Linked DNA regions of Homo sapiens. The protein of the gene in region 2 purifies or fractionates together with the protein of the main gene of each other region. This does not show direct contact. Each region holds a gene or a part of one and is shown on either strand. Other genes may lie near its edges. The genes, in order: ACADL, MTHFD2, MACROD1, PREP, MCCC1 and SCFD1.

Region 1 (3,500 bases), about 140 Mb from region 2:
GTTTCCTCTTTTTAAAAACAAACATTCTCCCATATCATTAGCCCAAGAGTAACTTAGAATAAATTCCTGTCATTATTCATTAACTTGTGTTCAGTTCAATCACAGGTAGAACAGGGGAAATATTTTGTGCTTTATATAATGATCCCATAATAACAAAATTGCCAGGTTGAAAAATAATGTGGAATTACTTTTCAGAAACTTGCACTTTTGAGGAGACTTTTTATATTTACATTTACAAGAAGTTCTTTGACTAGTGGCAAAAAGTGTAAAAAAAATTTACATATTTTTGGAAAAAGAGAAGTTTGGATAGCCATTGACCTTGTTATTTGAAAACCTCAGGTTTATACACATGCTCATATTTCACACTGAAACACAGGAGGCAACTAGTTATAGCCCAGTAAATATTTCACTAAAATACTTGCCAAATATAAAAAATTAGAGAAATCCAAATATTATTGTCCCCAAAGTCTTGTCTATTAATAATTATATTGTTAATATATTGCTTAGAAATATCCTCACCTGTCGTATGGTCTGAGTTTTAAATTATTTTAAATAAAAAGAAGTATCTACCCTTATTTTTGCTTTATGCTTCCCACTATTGAAAAATAAGTAGTGGGGTGCTGTAGCTTGCCACTGTAGTAACTCCTACTTGAGAAGCTGAGGTGAGAGGATCCTTTGAGCCCTGGAGTTCAAGACTGTAATGAGCTATGATTGTGCCACTGTATCCCAACCTAGGCCCTAGAGTGGGTGAGACTCCATCACTAAAACAGACTCACAAACAAAAAGAAAGAAAGAAAAGAAAAATAAGTAGAAAAGAATTTTGAACTAATGTATTTTTATGTTAAGGTGAATAAAATCTCTATCATGAATTTTAATGATAGAATTGTGATATTATCAGAAAAGAATTTTTCTCAAGCACTGCATGTTTATGTATACAAACATTATATATAATACTAATACATACACTTCAGGAATAATAATCTCTATATAATTTTCTAATGTTTCCTATATGATAGCATATACTTTGTTAGTCTGCCCTCTTAGGTTTTCACTTTTATCTTCAATTTATTTCTGAAAAGTCAGAACCCTAAAAAATTGCTTTTTTATACTGAAATTCAGAATCGTGATCTTCAAGTAGAAAGTGACATCATTGGAGAAAAAATGCATATTACAAGGGCAAAAAGAACTAGGTGGCTGAGTAATTTAGATCATATAGAGAATCCAAATAAATTAGAACATATTCAAGTCTTTACTGCATGTTTTTCTAGCCTCAAATAGCCAAAATCTAATCATCTGAGTTTTCTACCTTTTGTTTCTAGCCTAACAAAAACCTAGCAAGAAATATAATTAATGAAAAAGGTACTCTTATATGAAAATTCTCTTGAAATATATTTCATATGTAATTTTTATCTTCTTTGCTTAGCTAATATGCCGTTCTAATTGCTTAATAAATGTGCACATTTAAACAATTGTAAATAATTAGTTTTCTGGTTTTGAAGCACCTCATGAAAATCCATTTCAAACATTTCTTTTCTGCCTTTTATTTTGGTCATTTAGGGCATCTGAGTTACAAAATAGTGTAGCTTACGACTGTGTACAGCTCCATGGAGGTTGGGGATACATGTGGGAGTACCCAATTGCAAAGTAAGTATAGTTTTCTGATACACTCTTCTTTATGATGTGAAGAAAAAGGAAAATTTCTTTACTTTGTACATCAAATGTAGAGGGAAAGGAGGTGTGCAATCTTTTGAATTTTTCAGCTGAATACAGACAAAATGTATTCAAGCAAATGGAAACAGCTTTTTTTTTATCAACTCCCTACTAGGATTTTATTTTTCTTAAATAAAGTAAAGAGACCAATAAACAAAAGCTTGATCCTTGGCTTTATTTGAATCCTTATGTAGAAGGACAAATAGTATTTTCAAAAATTTTTTAATTTTTTTATTTTTTATTTTATTTTGAGACAGTCTCGCTCTGTCACCCAGGTTGGAGTACAGTGGCATGATCTGGGTTCACTGCAACCTCCACCTTCCAGGTTCAAATAATTCTTGTGCCTCAGTCTCCAGAGTAGCTGGAATTAACAGGTGCGTGCCATGACACCTGGCTAATTTTTTTGTATTTTTAGTAGAGGTGTGGTTTTGCCATGTTGGCCAGGCTGGTCTCAAACCCCTGGCCTCAAGTGATCTGCCTGCCTTGGCATCCCAAAGTACTGGGATTACAGGCGTGAGCCACTGCATCCGGCCAAATACTACTTTTTTTTTAAAACCAAAAAAAAAAAAAAGCAATACAGAAAAATTAACTGGCATATGAAAAGGATCTAAGTTGTCACATATCTTAAATATCTGATTATTTGTTTTGTTCTAAAAAAATTAAAAATCTTCTTTCTAAATAGATTTATTTCCTTCAAATTGAAAGAAATCAAATATATCTTTTTATCATATATGAATATTCTTATCAGTTTGAAGCAGTACTAATTTGTAAATAGGCAGTGTCCCCATTCATATTTCTTCCTCAATCTCCAGAATTTCCTTTTCTCCTAACAGTCTTTTGCCTCAGAAGTCTCCCCATAGCTTTTTTTCCTCATCACCCTAGAAAATATATTTTTCTGATTATTTAGCAATGATTTTGGTTTAGAAAATTTTCCCAAGGAAATTTTTTATTTATACAGAAAAGTTCAGTTTGTTCTGAATCTGAGAGTAAGAATGCTATAGGCTTCTAAAAATGTTTTAAGATTATCTTAATATAAAGTATCTAAAGGGAAAAATTATGAAACCTACATTCAAACTGGCAGCCTAATGATTTCAAATTTATCTTTTTGGTAAGTATAATTGGAAACATTTAATATGCTTATAGTCCTTAGAAAAAATATTTTACTAAAATTACATTAAGAACAGAAGCTATGTAGTGGCTCAATGTTTGTGTGGTTTAGTTCACATTTAAGAAAGGCCTATTAGGTGGGGAGAAGGCAATCATCTAAATGGCTTAAGATTAGAGCGTGGCATAAGCCTTGGTCTCTGTTTTCTCGGAGTCAACTCCTTCAAGTTGGTACCAAGCAAACAATGTAGATTGATGGCTTATTTGAAATCTCTGGTTTCAGTTTGAGAGACTTATATTCTCTTTAAGAAACAATAATCACCTTTCTTGGCCAGTTTGTTAGTTCAAAGATTGTATCAATTTTTAAACTAGACTGCTATTTCTCTTCCCATATATCGCCTAATATCAAAAAAGCCACTGAGGCCACGTGCGGTGGCTCACTCCTGTAATCCCAGCACTTTGGGATGCCAAAGCGGGTGGATCACCTGAGGTCAAGAGTTCAAGACCAGCCTGGGCAAAATGGCGAAACACCATTTCTACTAAAAATACAAAAAAATTAGCTAGGCGTGGTTGCAGGTGCCTGTAGTCCCAGCTACTCCAGAGGCATGAGAATCGCTCTAACCCGAGAGGCGGAGGTTGCAGTGAGTCGAGATTGCGCCACTGCACTCCAGCCTGGGCGACAGAGT
Region 2 (3,500 bases):
GGATGTTGATGGCTTTCATGTAATTAATGTAGGACGAATGTGTTTGGATCAGTATTCCATGTTACCGGCTACTCCATGGGGTGTGTGGGAAATAATCAAGCGAACTGGTAGGTATATCCCAGAATTGCATGTCTGTGTTAATATTATAAAAGTAGTACTGGCAAATGGTAAAAACTCATACAGTCCCAAAGAGTGGAAACCCTACTGCATATCCTCTAGTCTTACTCCCCAAAGTTTACCTCTCTTAACAGTTTTTTTTTTGTTTTTTGTTTTTTTTGAGACAGGGTCTTGCTCTGTCACCCAGGCTGGAGTGCAGTGGCGCGATCTTGGCTCACTGCAGCCTCTGCCTCCTGAGTTCAAGCGATTCTCATGCCTCAGCCTCCTGAGTAGCTGGGATTACAGGCACGTGCCACCATGCCCAGCTAATTTTTTTATTTCTAGTAGAGACAGGTTTCACCATATTGACCAAGCTGGTCTCGAACTAGGCCTCAGGTGATCCGCCCCCTCAGCCTCCCAGAGTGCTGGGATTATAGGCATGAGCCATCGTGCCTGCCCTTAACAGTTGCCTATGACAGTTTTTGCTTTTTAATCCAGAAGTCTCAGTGAAGGAAATTTTCTATTTTTCTTTTTCTTTTTTTTTGTTTTTGAGACGGAGTCTTGCTCTGTTGCCCAGGCTGGAGTGCAGTGGCGTGATCTCGACTCACTGCAAGCTCCACCTCCTGAGTTCATGCCATTCTCCTGCCTCAGCCTCCTGAGTAGCTGGGACTACAGGTGCCCACCACCATGCCTGGCTAACTTTTTTTTTTTCTCGTATTTTTAGTACAGACGGGGTTTCACCGTGTTAGCCAGGATGGTCTTGATCTCCTGACCTTGTGATCCACCTGCCTTGGCCTCCCAAAGTGCTGGGATTACAGGTGTGAGCCATCGCGCGTGGCCTCTATTTTTCTTTTTAATTTTTTCTTTAAGAGTCAGAGGTTTCATCATGCTGCCCAGGCTGGTCTCAAACTCCTGGCCTCAAGCAATTCTCCTACCTTAGCCTCCCTGGCCTCAAGCAATCCTCCCTCCTGCTGGGATTACAGGTGTGAGCCACCGCCCCAGCCCTCAGTGAAGGAAATTTAAGATTTGATAGTGGTGACAGTGCACATTCCTGTAACATTTTGTAGCCTGTAGTATGCTTTCTCCTGTTTTCTTTTAGCCCTTATTATGTGTAGCAAGTTACAGCTCCAGTTGACTGATGAGGCAAAATTGGGTTCATGTTCTAGGCCATCTGACTTTGTTTTCCTTTGGACTGGCACTACTTTTAATGTCAATACATATATTTTTATAGGCATTCCAACCCTAGGGAAGAATGTGGTTGTGGCTGGAAGGTCAAAAAACGTTGGAATGCCCATTGCAATGTTACTGCACACAGATGGGGCGCATGAACGTCCCGGAGGTAAGGAAATTGCTTTCAGGGAACACTGTCCTTTTTTCCCCATGTAAGAACTTTCAGAAGCCATCCTGTGCATGTTTGGAAGTATTAACTCTGTTATACTTTGTATTTGTTGAAATTTTGTTAACAGACAATTCAGGGAGTAACCTTTGTAGAGAAGCTGCACCCAGTGTCACCTGAGTTTCTTTATTATTCATTTATCATGTAACTAGCTTCAGAAATAAATTTAAGTTTTGAGTATAAGCATGGTTGTAGGCAATTAGAAAATTTCAGCTATAGCTTTGATAGCTGGAGCTAAGGAGCAATTCTTATTCAAAGATACTGTGTCATTTAGTGGAAAAAAATCTTTAGCCGTTGCAAAGGATTGGATTGGTATGACTGTAATGTGTCCTGTCAGGTTCTGTTAATTGGTTCTAAGGTAAAGCCTCGTCAATCAGTTATCACATAATTATTGTAATAATGACCTTACATGATTATATCAGAAATAAAGGCAAAACTATATACTTTCAACTATCTTTCAACATACTTAAAACAACCTTGAGTAATTTTAGTGATATTTTGCTTAGAAAAGGTAAAATTCTTGAAAGGCTTTAAAAATAGGATGAATAAATTTAATTATATGACTCAAAACAGTCGAGCTGGGACCAATGGGTTAAAGCTATATGATATTAGGTATTAATTTTAAAAAAGTAAATGACAATTAGCTGTTCAGAAAACATGGCACAAGCCATTAAGTCAGTTTTTTTTTTTTTTTTTCCTGGAGATGGAGTCTTGCCCTGTTGCCCAGGCTAGTGCAGTGGCACAATCTTGGCTCACTGCAACCTCCACCTTCCAGGTTCAAGTGATTCTCATGCCTCAGCCTCCCAAGTAGCTGGGATTACAGGCATGCGCCACCACGCCCAGCTAATTTTTGTATTTTTAGTAGAGACGGGGTTTCACCATGTTGGCCAGGTTGGCCTCGAACTCCTGACCTGGTGATCTGCCCACCTCGGCCTCCCAAAGTGCTGGGATTACAGGCGTGAGCCACTGCACCTGGCCGTAAGTCAATTATTTTTCAGAGATGTTGAGTTTCTACAATGACTTGACTAGTTGAGACCTAATCCAATCCCAGCTTTGTGTCAGAAATCAAGACATCTATTTTTTTCTTTCTAGGTGATGCCACTGTTACAATATCTCATCGATATACTCCCAAAGAGCAGTTGAAGAAACATACAATTCTTGCAGATATTGTAATATCTGCTGCAGGTAAGAACACAAGGGGGATGGAGGGAAGGACTTCACCTCAGAAGAGGAGGTTGTACCCCTCATCTTAGAATTCGCCTGCCTAGCTGCTATTCATCATTCCCCTTGTAATGATTCTTTGAGCTGCCTACAAAGATGAGGATAGAGTTGTGATTGGAATACCGGTTTCTGGCAGTCCATTATAGTCTAGATGGGTGAATGTTATTCCTAAAGCTTCAAAATATTTATATTAATATTTACTGTATAAAGTTTAAATGGTTCCTTTTGTTTCCTGTCAGGAGCCAAAATAAAAAAATAATAAAAGTAAATAGTTCCTTAGTTAATATTTTTAACAGGTTTTAATAAAACATGTTGATTAGTTCTTCAGGGTCTCTTGAAATTGAAGTTAGACAAGAATCTGACAGGTAGACTGTTTTCAGTACTAAGTTGATCTTTCCTTTCTCCATTTCCAGGTATTCCAAATCTGATCACAGCAGATATGATCAAGGAAGGAGCAGCAGTCATTGATGTGGGAATAAATAGAGTTCACGATCCTGTAACTGCCAAACCCAAGTTGGTTGGAGATGTGGATTTTGAAGGTAAATGGTGAAATTTTATTTTTAAAAATGAAATCAATAAATACTACCTTTCATGGACATTTAGGATAGATTATTTACTTTTTTTTTTTTTTTTTTTTTTGAGATGGGAGTCTCACTCTGTTGCCCAGGCTGGAGTGCAGTGGCGCGATCTCGGCTCACTGCAACCTCTGCCTCCTGGGTTCAAGCTATTCTTCTGCCTCAGCCTCCCGAGTAGCTGGGACTCCCAAAGTGTTGGGATTATAGGTGTG
Region 3 (3,500 bases), on a different chromosome or scaffold from region 2:
GCTCCTTATCTCCGAGTAAACATTTCAGTCCTAATAAACAGGAGAGACACGGGCGTCAGGGCTCTGTCGATTCCCATCCTGATTTAGGACCTGCCTCCCTTCTTACCATACAATAGGAGAGTGTTTTAAAAAATGTTTTTATTGAGCCAGTAAAAGCTTTCCAGGAGGGAGGTGGGAGAGAGGAGGGGGCCTGGCAGACACCAGGCCAAAGGGTCTGTCGGGAAGGCTGGCAGCTGCCCCAAGCCCATCAAGCCTTCCTGAAGCAGACACAGGCCTTCCCCCTGGGGGGCCCGTCCATCCTGCTCTACCTGCAGAACTCCTATTTAGCCTTCGGGACCCAAGTCAAATGCTCCCTCTGCTGGGAAGCCTCCTACCAAACTGGGTCTCCCTGAAGGCAGAGCCAAGCCCTGAGTCCCAGCATTTGGCATAGCTCCCTCAACTCAGAGAGAGCTCCAGGGAAGAATGGGTAGTAAGGGAGTAGGGGGACTTCCCCAGGACTCACTGCATTGCCAGCACCATCTAGTTCGGCCCCAGGGTGTGGTGGGTGGGGGTCCAGGCCCAGAGTGAGGCAGGCACAGGAGTCCTGTGCCCTCCAGGTTAAGTCCCTTTAGCCCCAGCAGCCCCTGGGGGCTCTCACTGCATTGGGGGTGCCCGGGAGACTCCCTTCTCTGCTCCCCTGAGACTGCAGCCCTCTTCTGCTCTAAATCACCGCACATTTGCCGTAAAAACAGTGGGCTCGGGCCCCAAAGCCCTGCAGGCCAGTCCCAGCCCCATCTTCTGAGCCCCAGTTGCGCCGGCCCCTCCTGGCAGGAACTCCACGCCACTACCCACACCAGGGTGTTGGCCGGGGTGTTGGCTGGGATGTTGGTTGGGTTGTTGCCTGGGGTATTGGTTGGGGTGTTGGTTGGGGTGTTGGCTGGGTTGTTGGTTGGGGTGTTGGCTGGGGTGTTGGCTGGGGTGTTGCCCAGGGTGTTGGTTGGGGTGTTGGTTGGGGGGTTGGCTGGGGTGTTGGTTGGGGGGTTGGTTGGGGTGTTGGTTGAAGTGTTGCCTGGGGTGTTGGTTGGTGTGTTGGCTGGGGTGTTGGTTGGCATATTGGTTGGGGTGTTGCCCAGAGTGTTAGCTGGGGTGTTGGTTGGGGTGCTGGCTGGCATGTTGGTTGGGGTGTTGGCTGGCATGTTGGGGTGTTGGAGTGTTGGCTGGTATGTTGTTTGGGGTGTTGGTTGGGGTGTTGGTTGGAGTGTTGGTTGGAGTGTTGGCTGGGATGTTGGCTGGGGTGTTGACCGGGGTGTTGGCTGGAGTGTTGGTTGAGATGTTGGCTGACATGTTGGGGTGTTGGTTGGGGTGCTGGCTGGCATGTTGGTTGGGGTGTTGGCTGGGGTGTTGGTTGGGGTGTTGGTTGGTGTGTTGGTTGGGGCGTTGGCTGGCATGTTGGTTGGCATGTGTTGGTTGGGATGTTGGCTGGCATGTTGATTGGGGTGTTGGCTGCCATGTTGCTTGAGGTGTTGGCTGGGGTGTTGGTTGGAGTGTTGTTTGGGGTGTTAGTTGGGGTGCTGGCTGGTGTGTTGGTTGGGGTGTTGGCTGGCATGTTGGCTGGCATGTTGGTTGGGGTGTTGGTTGGCATGTTGGTTGGGGTGTTGGCTGGCATATTGGTTGGCACGAGTTGGTTGGGGTGTTTGGGATGTTGGCTGGCATGTTGGTTGGGGTATTGGTTGGGGTGTTGGCTTGCATGTTGGCTGGAGTGTTGGTTGGGGTGTTTGCTGGTGTATTGTTTGGGGTGTTGGCTGGCATGTTGGTTGGGGTGTTGGCCAGGGTGTTGGCTGGCATGTTGGTTGGGGTGTTGGCTGGCATGTTGGTTGGCATGTGTTGGTTGGGGTGTTGGTTGGGATGTTGGCTGGTGTGTTGGTTGAGGTGTTGGTTGGGATGTTGGCTGGCGTGTTGGCTGGCATGTTGGTTGGGGTGTTGAAGTGTTGGCTGGGGTGTTGGTTGGCATGTTGGTTGGGGTGTTGGCTGGCATATTGGTTGGCACGAGTTGGTTGGGGTGTTAGGATGCTGGTTGGCATGTTGGTTGGGGTATTTGTTGGGGTGTTGGCTGGCGTGTTGGCTGGGGTGTTGGTTGGGGTGTTGGTTGGGGTGTTTGCTGGTGTATTGTTTGGGGTGTTGGCTGGCATGCTGGTTGGGGTGTTGGCTGGCATGTTGTTGGGGTGTTGGCTGGCATGTTGGTTGGGCTGTTGGCTAGGATGCTGATTGGGGTGTTGGCCAGGGTGTTGCCTGCTGCCCCTCTCCATTGAGGGACTGGCAGACTGGCAGTCCCCAGGGTGAGGGGATGGGATGTGGGTGCCAGACTGAGAGCTGTGTCCCTGGCTCCCAGGGCACACAGAGGGTGCCACTCACTGCACCACAGATGTTAATTATTTACTTCAAAGCAGGAAGCTCTTCTAGGAGCTCAGAATCTCCCATAACCCTGCCCTCGGGGGAGTCCATTCCGGTGGGGAGGCAGGCAATGAAGAACAAACACAAAACGCAAGCAGGGAATCAGGGCTGCGGGACGAAGACATGGAGCAGGGCAGTGCATCAGGGTTCTGGGCAGAGTGGCCAGGGCAGGCAGGATGGCCCTTGTGCGTGTTCGAACAATGGGTGGCTGGTCATGGGAGGGGCGCGGGTAGAGGCCTGAACTCCTGTAGGAGGGATGTCCAGGGACCCCACGGGAAGATGGGTGTGTCTGGGCAGAGTCAGATGGGGTCTAACTTGGGCAGGTAGGCGATTAGGACTGGATGAACTCAAAGGATGGTGGGAGGAGCAGGGGTATAGGGGAGGGCAGAGCACCTCCGGGGACCAGGCTGGGCTCCATTCCAGCCCCAGCATCGTCCCTACCACAGCCCCCTCCCCACCACCTCCACTGTGTTCCAATCACATTAGCAGAGTGACAGTCCCAGCAAGTGCTGGCGGCGGCTCCATAAATCTCAGCCCATGTTAAAAGGTTGGACTCCGGGCCCACTTCCTCCAGGGGCACCCGCCCCGTCCATCTCTCCATCAGTCAGGTTGTGTGAGAGGCCTGTGCCAGCCGCTCCGCACCCCTAAATGCTGGAAGGAGAACCAGAGAGACCTCTGCCATGCCTCTGAGTGGCCAGGGCAGGGCCCCTCCACTTCCTAGAGTGAGGTCACAGGCCATCTGTGAGCCACTCCTGGATTTGCCAAAACATCTTTGGTTTCCACCAGCTGCCCTTGGGTAAGTCCGTTGCTTAATGTGTAGGGTCATCTCCACCTTTACCTGTAGTTCATTCATTCAATAAACTTTTTTTTTTTTTGAGACAGGGTCTCGCTGTGTTACCCAAGCTGGAGTGCAGTGGTGTGATCTTGGCTCACTGCAGCCCCTGCCTATGGGGTTCAAGCAATTCTCCTGCCTCAGCCTTCTGAGTAGCTGGGATTACAGGTGTGTACCACCATGCCCAGCTAATTTTTGTATTTTTAGTAGAGACGGGGCTTCACCATGTTGGCTAGGC
Region 4 (3,500 bases), on a different chromosome or scaffold from region 2:
ATCTTGTAATTCATTGGCGAATTTATAAAAAAGGTCTTGATGTAGCCTAATCAAAAGGCAGAAAAAGCTAAACATAGCCAAGAGATGAAAAACACTGTAGCCTTATTCTCAATTCAATTGTGGGGGAAAAAAAAAAACAGAAAAGAAAGCAAGGATATTTAAAGATGACAAAGATACAACAAGTCATGATAAGGGGACAACAGGTACAGCAGAAAGCACTGGAGTAGCTGTGCTTCTTGCCAGATCCCAGCCCTCCAGCAAATTACTGAGCCTCTGTGCCCAAGCTCCTAATCTCTAACACAGGGATTGTAAAACTTACCTGTAAAGACCAACCAACATAACAAGAAAATGCTACATACCACGTTGAAATGTGGGGTAGCAAAAGGAAGAAAATGACACATTGTACCAGTAAGGTACAAGGTACATAGCCCTTCCTGCCTGGGAAAATTTAGAAGTGAAGGAGCAAAGAGGGAGGAACCCCTTGAACACAACAGGATCTTTGTGCAATTAAAGAGAAGAACAATAAAGGTGTGTCCAGAAAGTAACAAGGAGAAAAGTATCAAGATAAATGGCAACCAACAGGTGACCTATAACTTCTGATCAGAGGAGAATATGCGATTACTGTAGCAGTAAAGTTTTATAATCACTCAACATAATCAAATAGCTTGGTTCGGTTTAAAAATTCACCTTCTCCATAATCTCCTTAGGAGATATAACACATCTATAAGGGACTGATTGATTGTAATAATGATCTCATTTTTCCGCAGTTCCCTGTATCTATTTCTCCACCCATTGAAAAGGGGCTGGCCCTCTGGCTTGCTTTAGCCAACAGAATGCAGCAAATCTGACGTGCCAGGAGCAAGCCTAGGCATTAAGAAGGCTGTGTCATTCAGCTCCCCGTCTTGCAATTCTACTGAGTTGCCATGTGAGCAAGCCCAGGCTAGTCTGCTAGTCGTCCCAGCTGAGGGCCCAGAAATGTAAAAGAGCCAAGCCAAGATGAACCAACTAACCTGCAGCTGACCACAGATACATGTTAGAACTCAGCCAAGGCCAGAAGAACTACCTGGCCAACCCATAGGCTCATAGCAAAAACAAATGTTTATTATTCTAAGCTACTACATTTTGGTGGGGTCTATTACACAGCAAAGCCAACTGATACAACATCCTTTGAGGAAACATGGTTCTGGACCACACAACCTCTATGTAGGGTTCAGCATCTCTTTTCAGTCACTTGAAGTCACACTTCATTTTGTGAAAAATGTGCTTCATCTGAAGTCTTCACTCACCATCACTTTTTCCATCCTGTTGAGGGTATGAGTTGTAGAACATTCCCTTCCCATCATGGGTCCAGGCCATACAGCTGAACTTGACTCTTTCAAGCACATCTGGAAGCTCTTTGGCACCATCAACTTTCATGAACTTGATTGTCACCCAGTCTGAGCCACTGGCACTCAGACCATAGGCAAAATATTCACCATCTTCGCTGAACGCATAACCTATGGGACACAGGAGAAATCATCCAGTGACAAACACGGAACACAACTCCACGGTCCTTTATGCCATCTAACAAAGCTCTCTTTCATAACACGGAGGTAGAATGTGGCAATAAAAGGAATAGGAATCTGGTAGTGAGGAATCCCGGGGGCTCAGCCCAAGTTTTACAGGAATTACCCTTATAACCTTAGACAAGCTTCCTAACCTCTCCAGGTCTTAATTTGTCTATAAAATGAAATATTAGATTATATGCCTACTAAAATGCTTTCATTTTGAAATTTTTATAATGCAATAGGCAGTTCAGTTAAAAGCAGAGCTCATCTGGGACTTCTGTCATATTTCATTTATACTCTAAAGGGAATAAGGAGAAAAAGGAAACTGCTTTTAGAGTAATGACTGAATTATGACACATACCATATAATAGAACTAAATTGTAGTCATTAGGTAATTTGGGAGATTGATTCCAAATTATCTAAAATCCCTTGTTACAGCCTCATTTTTGAAGCATTACCTGTGCAATGTCCACACTGTCTGACCATTACAAGCCTAGGTAAATAAAGCCTGAGGGTTTGCAGTGAAGGCGCCCGGAGTGCACATTCCACAAGAAATTGTGAAAGGAAAAGCAACATGTCTATAGACTGTCGTGCCATGTACAGTCCTTTAGGGCCCTGGCAGAATGTTCTAATCACTATGGAATGTTTCCTGGCAAATACTTGTGTTTCATATTAGCTTTTTTAATTATGAAGTATGTAAAGCATTCAATACAACACCTCCTATTGGAGACTCTGACACCAGAGATTTCCTCTTAGGCTGTTTGCTAAACGTTATTGGGTAATGAAAATTTTAAGAAGCTCAACTATTATTAGAGGTTTCCTATTCTTTTACGTGGAATTTCATTTGTTTAAAATTTCACAGAACCTACTCATTAACCATTGTAGGTCCTATAAAGTATCTAGGCTCATATGTATGTAAATGCAGAAAAGAGTCTAGAAAGTGATAGGAAAAAGAAACATATTCACCTTTTATTCTACATAGCACTGGAGTGTTTGAATTGTTTATATATATATATATATATATATATATATATATATATATATATATATATATATATATATATCAGAAAATTTTCAGAAAAATTTAAATAAAACATTTTGATTTGAAAAGTATGTTTAAAAATCATATACTACAAAAATAATCTGAATGTTTACTCCTTTTGTGATAACTTCCCTATAATACCACTCTTAGAAAACTCAATGACTGTTTGAGGCAGGTCTCATGCCTAATTTAGCTTCTCGCCCATCAAGGCTTTGTCCATAGCAAACATTCCATAAAGAAGTCACTAGAAGAATGCATTATCGGGGTGGGAGTTAAGACCCTGTCCCTCTGGATGGGCTGCAAGATAGATCCTTGTGGAAACTAAATGAATTCCTATATGGGATATGTTACTTCAACAGAACCAGTGTATTAAATTCACTGAAAACTACAAGCTCAGATTCATGGAAGAATCTGAGCTGGTGATGTCTTATTTTCGATACTGGTTCGATAAAGGATCATTGTTTATATACACAGCCTATTCAGAGGGAGGGGAAGGTGGACCACCGAATGACTGGATCATGGTTAGAAGTGTTTGTATAAAAAAGGGTCTTTGCACAGGTCTGATGGAACGGGGCTCTATAACTCCCATCTTATTGATTACAGAGGACTTCAATGTCTCAATTTCTCAATTCTAGAGGGCCATAACTAATCATATGGTTTTTTCTATAAAACCAGAAGGTACTACAGGAGAAATGCTGAGCCAACGTCATCTATAACATCATTATCATTGTAGAGTTTACAATTATTAAAATACAGAACTGGAGAATAACTTAGTTCCTTACCCTAGAACTCTGCTTACTGCAGAAACCTTGGATAATCTTCTCTATGGCCTACGGAGGAGGTTATCTTAGGGGCAGAGTTAAGTAGGAGATGTACAGCAACTGTGGACAAACTTAGTCTTTAAACCTCCA
Region 5 (3,500 bases), on a different chromosome or scaffold from region 2:
AATTCTACTGCTTCAGCCTCCTGAGTAGCTGAAATTACAGGTGCCTGCCACCACGCCTGGCTAATTTTTGTATTTTTAGTAGAGACGGGGTTTCACCACATTGGCCAGGCTGGTCTCGAACTCCTGACCTCAGGTGATCCACCTGCCTTGGCCTCCCGAAGTGCTGGGATTACAGGTGTGAGCCACCACACCCGGCCAATACTAACTAATCTTTAATAAGCACTTTCTGTGCCTCAGGTCCTGTGCTAAAGACTCAACATCGACTTAAATTTTCACAATAATCCTAATGAAATAGATACTATCATTGTTATCTCAATTTTAAAGATGAAGAAACTAATGCTGAAAGAGCTATTATTTTCCCAAAATTACACAGCTAAAGAAACAATCTGGGACTTCAACCTAGATCTGCGTCACTCCAGAATTTAAGCTTTCAGTCACTCTGCTCCTCTGCCTCTATCCCTATGTACATAGGTGTGTGTGGTTCTCTTGCAACACAAGTGACTCTTGTACCAGTCTACTGGCATGGCACCATAATGACAAGCTACTGCATATATAAAATGTACTTCTAATATCACACGTGAAATAAATGTTCTTTGACAGTTCATAATAAAGTTATTTCTTCAATAGAATCCATAGGCTCAACATAATAAAGTTATTTCTCCTTTTAAAAAAAAAAAGGTTGCACCTAATTTAAAAGTGTTTTTCGATGGGGCTCTATGGAGCCCAAGAGTTGTCACAGGGGCTGATGGATGACATATGTATGAGTGTGGGCAGGGGAAGGAGAGCACAGTAGGTAGAGGGCTATATCCAATCAGCTAGAAGTTATACTTTATTACACTTTTATATGTTTCATAGTTGGGAATTCCATGTTAAATTTTATTTGGAAAAAAAGGTTTTGCTACTTAAAATAGCTTTTTCAAAGAACTGCTTTAGACCATCGTAGTTATGATTTTCCAATCCAATACACTAAGAGGGTCAAATGGACAGAAAGAACAAACGAATATAAAATGTTCTCCATTATTGCCCTCTGTATTTTATTTATTTATTTTTACTTTTTTTTTTTTTTTTTTGAGACGAAGTCTTGCTCTGTCGCCCAGGCTGGAGTGCAGTGGCGAGATCTTGGCTCATTGCAACCTGCGCCTCCTGGGTTCAAGCAATTCTCCTGCCTCAGCCTCCCAAGCATCTGGGATTACAGGCACCCGCCACCACGCCCAGCTAATTTTTGTATTTTTTAGTAGACACAGGGTTTTGCCATGTTGTCCAGGCTGGTCTCGAACTCCTGACCTCAGGTGATCCACCCACCTCAGCCTCCCAAAGTGCTGGGATACAGGCATGAGCCACTGCGCCCGGCTGCCCTCTGTATTTTAGACTTAACAGCAAGAGAGATTTGATACAAAAGAGGTGAAAACCATGACTTAACACTTCCTAGAAAATTATCGTGAAAATCCAAAATTTATGATAACTAATTCTATTATGCATATATTAAGGGATTAAACATTTCCCTTTCTTAAACACTTCCAGTCTGAAGCAAAATCAAATAGAACAACAAAGTCTGTCAGTACCTGTGGCTGTTGTGTACTTCATGGTTCTTTGCCTCCACACCCATGTCCTATAACATAAATCCAAAAGGAATTACAATTAAACAGAATAGGCAACACAATTGTTCTTTCAAAAGAATTTCAGTTTCTTAAAACATGAAACCTTAAGCCAACTAACAGTGCTTTAGTAAGACTTTCTTAGTGGGTAGAAAACTAATCTAGAACTCAAGAGTTAGAGTTCTGGCTGTTTTCCCTCGTACTACCTGTCCTTGAATGAGTCACCTAGCCTGCTTGTTCCTGAGGCTGGCATAAGACCACAGTCAGAGATGATTAAACAACCAAGGTATACCAACATCATCTAGTTTAGCTTTTTTGAAACCTTTTTGGCTACAACTCACAATACAAACTACCCAGGACACACACTTAATGAAAACAGATGTTTTGTTAAAAATGACTCATTCTGCCCTGGCCAGGCACGGTGGCTCACACCTGTAATCCCAGCACTTTGGGAAGCCGAGGCAAGCAGATCATGAGGTCAGGAGATTGAGGCCATCCTGGCTAACACGGTGAAACCCTGTCTCTACTGAAAACACAAAAAATTAGCCGGGCGTCATGGCGGGCACCTGTAGTCCCAGCTACTCGGGAGGCTGAGGCAGGAGAATGGCGTGAACCCAGGAGGCAGAGCTTGCAGTGAGCCGAGACTGGGCCACTGCACTCCAGCCTGGGTGACAGAGCGAGACTCCGTCTCAAAAAAAAAAACAAAAACAAAAAGAACAAAACTCTTTTGGTTCTTTCAGTTGTATCCTATTTTATTAAAATATGCTGGTCAATCTACAGTTTGAAAAATACCAATCAAGTTTAAACATGAGACATGTTTAAAAAGTAAGACCAGAGAAATAAACGGAAGTTAAACAGGGGCAACAGAAAGAATGTTGGCTGTGGGACCAGAAAAGCTGCATTCTCATCCGAGTCCCTCCAATGACCAGCTTGCCCAGGGTCGAGTCACTTTACATCAGTGTTTCTCCAACTTTTTTTTCATTATTACTCTCCTAATGAGAAAACTTTTAAAAGATTTTATTCCTTGTAGGAAGGGTGGGGTAAGGTTGAGCTTTGGAAAGCCGTAAACCATGACAAAATCTAAGATTTCCTGGCTCTCCTAAGAATCAATTTCCACCCTTTAGCGGTGGTATCATCCCAGTTGAGGATGCAAGATTTAATAGCTTGGGCTTCAGTGTTCTCACACACGAGATGAGACTATAAGAGGTGATCTTGAAGGTACCTCTCAGATTTAAAAGTACTATACAATTCTATTCCAAGTCCTTGTATTTAAAAAAATGGAGAAATGGGGAGACAAAATGACTTGAGGTATTTTAATGAGGTAGAAGTCTCAACAATTTTTAAGTTTCGTGATACCTGTGTATAAAATAAAGTAACCAAGAGCTGACAGAAAACAGGCCAGATTCACTTTAGGAACAAAAAAGTATAACGTCTATTAAGTTTCAGCTAAAGAGGATAAGTGGGCTGGGTGCAGTGGCTCACGCCTGTAATCCTAGCAATTTGAGAGGCTGAGGTGGGGGGATTACCTGAGGTCAGGAGTTCGAGACCAGCCTGGCCAACATGGTGAAACCCCATCTCTACTAACAATACAAAAATTAGCCAGGTGTGGTGGTGCGCACCTGTAATCTCAGCTACTTGGGAGGCTGAGGCAGGAGTATCACTTGAACTTGGGAGGTGGAGGTTGCAGTGAGCCAAGATCGTGCCACTACATTCCAGCCTGGGTGACAGAGTGAGACTCCATCTCAAAAAAAAAAATAAATAAATAAATAAAAAGCATATGCAGGGAAACAAACAAATTACAGAAGCAATTCCACCTATCTTTTTGTCTATACCTGGAAGATGTGGTTATAAAGGACTAACTAACCATTTTAGATTATTCACAAAGCACAAGATAAAAGCACAGCG
Region 6 (3,500 bases), on a different chromosome or scaffold from region 2:
TAACTTTTAGTTAAGAAAACAGTATCTATAATAAAATTAATAATCGCTTGCCCTACTTTATCATTAATAGTATTTTCCTCATAAAATTACCCCTATTACACAGTTCTAACTGGTGAAAGAATGAATAATCTCCTATATCTAAGAGGGAACTAAAATCGGCTTAAACATTTAGCTAAATACAATTTAGTTCTTTAAATTCAAAGTTATATTTGCTATTGCCTACAGTTTCCTACTAGTTAAAAACATTAACAATTTTTTAGTTAAATAAAAAAAAAATCCTATCAACAGAAAGACTTCAAAGAGGATATACTGCTCACTTACCTAACAGCTGATGTTAGCTTAGCGGTATTGTCAGAAAGCATACTTATGGCTCCTTCATCTTCCCCTTCTAGTCCCTTGTAAAGAAAAAAGGTCTCAATAGCTACTCAAAAATCCCAGGCACAAGCATAAAAATCAACACATCCTAAGATTGGAGCAAATATCCTAAGATTATTGATATACCGTAAGATTTTTAAGTCACCTAGAATAGTAATTCTCCTCCTCTGAGGTGCAAGCATATATATTTTAATGTTACATAAAAGTTCTAGTAATCGCCAGTCTAATGGTTAGATGTCTAAATGATCAGCTGGCATTTTTGGATAAGGAGACAGGCCCAGAGACGTGCCATAGGTCACACAGCAATAAACAGTAGAGCTGAAATCTGAAGTTACATCGAAGTATGGTAGAATGAGCAGCATTGGAACATACATCTCTAAAATGATGCTACATTATATATTTTTTCAAATCATATATTATTTTTTCTCTTCTCAATATTTAGATTTCTTTTTGATCACTTACGCAAGTTGAAAATATTTTTGTTATAAAAGCATTAAATGGCCTTCAATTTTTATAAGGAAAAAAACCCAAATCTCTTTATCTAACAGATAATCCTCCTCTTTCCTATAATTCTTAGAAAGCAAATAGAATCTTACCATAATGCTTTTAAGTCGTTTGACCTCATCTTCCTGTGCTCTGTAAGATTCTAGTTCTTGCTGAACTGATTCTGCAACTTCTGGGAATGGACTAAAACAGTATTGCACAAGAACTATGAGGATGACATTAAAAGACCAATTTTTGTGTAAATTCTAAAATATATACAATGAACATTTATTATTTTAAATATACTTATTTGGATTTGAATATATGTTATATATAACAAAGGCAGAAAAGATTCAGCACAAATACAACTACATATCTTTCTGATATCTATATAATACTATTTCTTTAAAATGCATATAATATACATCTAAAATTTAAATTTCATTTCTATTTTTCATTAACAGTATCATACATTCTCTTCACTTATACGTTTTTAGAAGAAAAAGTAAAATATTTACATGACTGAAAATCAATGGAAGACAAGTCATGTTATATCAAATATCAATTAAATATTCCCATCCAAATTAACACGTCATGTCAAAGGGTCCATGCAACTACAAAGACAGCATTTAAAAATATCACCTGCAAGTAACTGTGAAAAAATTCTTGTAACTCAGAACTCATAATATCCCAGAACACTACTGGTAAAAATAGCACTTGGGCCACAGTTTTGGTGGCCTAATACCTGATGTCTTCTACCAGGACATTGTGGTTTAGCAGTAACTTACATAGACTTTAGGCAGAAGTGATCTGCAATCATGAGCACTCAGGTAGAAAACACTGTACTAATCTTGACAAACTCTAGGTGAATACATGTTGATCATTAAATGTTTCTTAAAATGAGTATTTTTCATCTACAGCCTAGGGGGAGGCCAGAAGCCTTTTCTCCTTTAAGAAAGAAAAGGTCATGTCTCATTAACAGTGAACAAAAACCTTTCCCCCCTTCCTCAGCTCTGACATCTGAAAATACCTCTCTAATAACAAGCACATTTTATCCAATGGAGACTAGCAGAAAAGACAGGAGCTCAGAAAGGATTCTGAGGAACACAGTCCAATTTTACCTCACAAGCACAGGCATTTACTCCAGCTCCAGTTGAGTCTATGTTGGCAAAAAATAGCACTGAGGCCTCAGCATTGCACTGGGGAGTCAGAAACCCTTGTTCCATCTAATTATAATGGAAACTTCCTTTACAGGCAAGCTCTTACCCTCTCAGGGCCCTAGCTTTATCTGTAAAATGTGTGGGTTGAACTGGATAATCCTCAAAATCTCTGATATCTTTAGGTCTCAGAGTTAACAGAGAATAATTGCTCACATTTATTAAGTGATTTTACTATACATCAAACACCATGCTAAGAATTTATCTTTTCTTTCTTTTTTTTTTTTTTAAGATGGAGTTTTGCTCTTGTTGCCCAGGCTGGAGTGCAATGGCGTGATCTCGGCTCACTGCAACCTCATTTAATCCTGATGAATCTGTTGAGGTAACTATCATAACTTAACTATTCAATGTTAAGACTGGGTGCTTTATGGTCTGCAAGACCTGGGTTTCATCCCTGGCTTTACCAACGAAAGCTGGATGACTTGGGCAAATTACTCCTTTAAATTCATTATCTCAATCTTCTCAACAACCTTCTGAAATAGGGCAATAGGTAGAATTATTATCTCCCTATTTTACTGATGAGGAAACTGAAGCTCAGAGAGGTTTAGGTCACTTGTTTATGCTATCTCCAAGTGTCTTTGTGCCCATGTTACTATTGTATGTAAGATGCAGAGCAAAAGAGCTATTCCTACTTAATGAATAGGAGGTTAAAATTCTTACTATTCAACTGACCTCTTAAATTGTTCTTAAACATATGTTCTAAAAAAATTCAAAATTTCCATATTTGAATACAGAGATTTTTTTCTTAAGCTTTTCTCTATTAGGGAATGCCAACTTCAAAATATTCTGTATTCTCTATAAATAATGCCTCTCTAATAAAAGTAATTTCTTGTACTTCACCATTCTGGAGGGAAACGTAGATTATGGAATTCCAAAGGGAAGAGTATTATTTAAAATCAAATTTATTAAAATTAATTAAAATAGTACCTAAAACTGCCATAGTGAGAAAGAGAAAGACAGTGACTTTTCTCTGCAGAGAAAGTCAAATCTTTGTTATGGCGATTTGATTTTCCAGCTTAAAAAAAAGTTGTAAGTAAAAAAAAGATAAAGCATATTAAAAACCCAGCATGTTGAACCAAGTCTATATTCGACTTCTCTTTAAACAATAAATATAAGCCCAAAAAGAACAGCTATATCAAGGACACACACACATTTTGAAATATTTTTTAAAAATCATATTTTCATAATTGTTGATGAACAGTATTCTTTTTCTCTGAGGAATAATATTTTTGTTTGTTTAGAATGATGGCTCTAGCCATAATGATCACTAGATAACTTTTATAGCAGTAACTGAGCCCATGAAGTACCCTAAACTTTAAGGGGGCATAGCATCACATGGGATATGTATATCTGCCCACAGTAAATCACATGGCAAATTAATGCAGTTTTATCACTCATTATTTCTAATGTACTTTGAATAAATTT

The links.
Region 1: the proteins of MTHFD2 (region 2) and ACADL purify together in Homo sapiens (affinity purification with mass spectrometry; 2 studies listed by BioGRID and IntAct, with this or other methods). This does not show direct contact.
Region 3: the proteins of MTHFD2 (region 2) and MACROD1 purify together in Homo sapiens (affinity purification with mass spectrometry; one large-scale study listed by BioGRID and IntAct). This does not show direct contact.
Region 4: the proteins of MTHFD2 (region 2) and PREP fractionate together in Homo sapiens (co-fractionation; one large-scale study listed by BioGRID). This does not show direct contact.
Region 5: the proteins of MTHFD2 (region 2) and MCCC1 fractionate together in Homo sapiens (co-fractionation; one large-scale study listed by BioGRID). This does not show direct contact.
Region 6: the proteins of MTHFD2 (region 2) and SCFD1 fractionate together in Homo sapiens (co-fractionation; one large-scale study listed by BioGRID). This does not show direct contact.

The regions. Positions count from the first base shown.
Region 1 is NC_000002.12:210,190,948-210,194,447, reverse strand, and holds part of ACADL (long-chain specific acyl-CoA dehydrogenase, mitochondrial precursor), read left to right. Parts: intron 1-1,557; coding exon 1,558-1,644; intron 1,645-3,500. UniProt on the Homo sapiens protein: Long-chain specific acyl-CoA dehydrogenase is one of the acyl-CoA dehydrogenases that catalyze the first step of mitochondrial fatty acid beta-oxidation, an aerobic process breaking down fatty acids into acetyl-CoA and allowing the production of energy from fats.
Region 2 is NC_000002.12:74,208,615-74,212,114, forward strand, and holds part of MTHFD2 (bifunctional methylenetetrahydrofolate dehydrogenase/cyclohydrolase, mitochondrial isoform A precursor), read left to right. Parts: coding exon 1-107; intron 108-1,327; coding exon 1,328-1,435; intron 1,436-2,584; coding exon 2,585-2,677; intron 2,678-3,126; coding exon 3,127-3,252; intron 3,253-3,500. UniProt on the Homo sapiens protein: Although its dehydrogenase activity is NAD-specific, it can also utilize NADP at a reduced efficiency.
Region 3 is NC_000011.10:64,009,114-64,012,613, forward strand, and holds part of MACROD1 (ADP-ribose glycohydrolase MACROD1), read right to left. Parts: intron 1-3,500. UniProt on the Homo sapiens protein: Removes ADP-ribose from aspartate and glutamate residues in proteins bearing a single ADP-ribose moiety. Inactive towards proteins bearing poly-ADP-ribose.
Region 4 is NC_000006.12:105,372,083-105,375,582, forward strand, and holds part of PREP (prolyl endopeptidase), read right to left. Parts: intron 1,497-3,500; coding exon 1,287-1,496; intron 1-1,286. UniProt on the Homo sapiens protein: Cleaves peptide bonds on the C-terminal side of prolyl residues within peptides that are up to approximately 30 amino acids long.
Region 5 is NC_000003.12:183,092,997-183,096,496, forward strand, and holds part of MCCC1 (methylcrotonoyl-CoA carboxylase subunit alpha, mitochondrial isoform 1 precursor), read right to left. Parts: intron 1,613-3,500; exon of another isoform or gene 1,610-1,612; coding exon 1,563-1,609; intron 1-1,562.
Region 6 is NC_000014.9:30,670,819-30,674,318, reverse strand, and holds part of SCFD1 (sec1 family domain-containing protein 1), read right to left. Parts: intron 1,063-3,500; coding exon 972-1,062; intron 396-971; coding exon 322-395; intron 1-321. UniProt on the Homo sapiens protein: Plays a role in SNARE-pin assembly and Golgi-to-ER retrograde transport via its interaction with COG4. Involved in vesicular transport between the endoplasmic reticulum and the Golgi.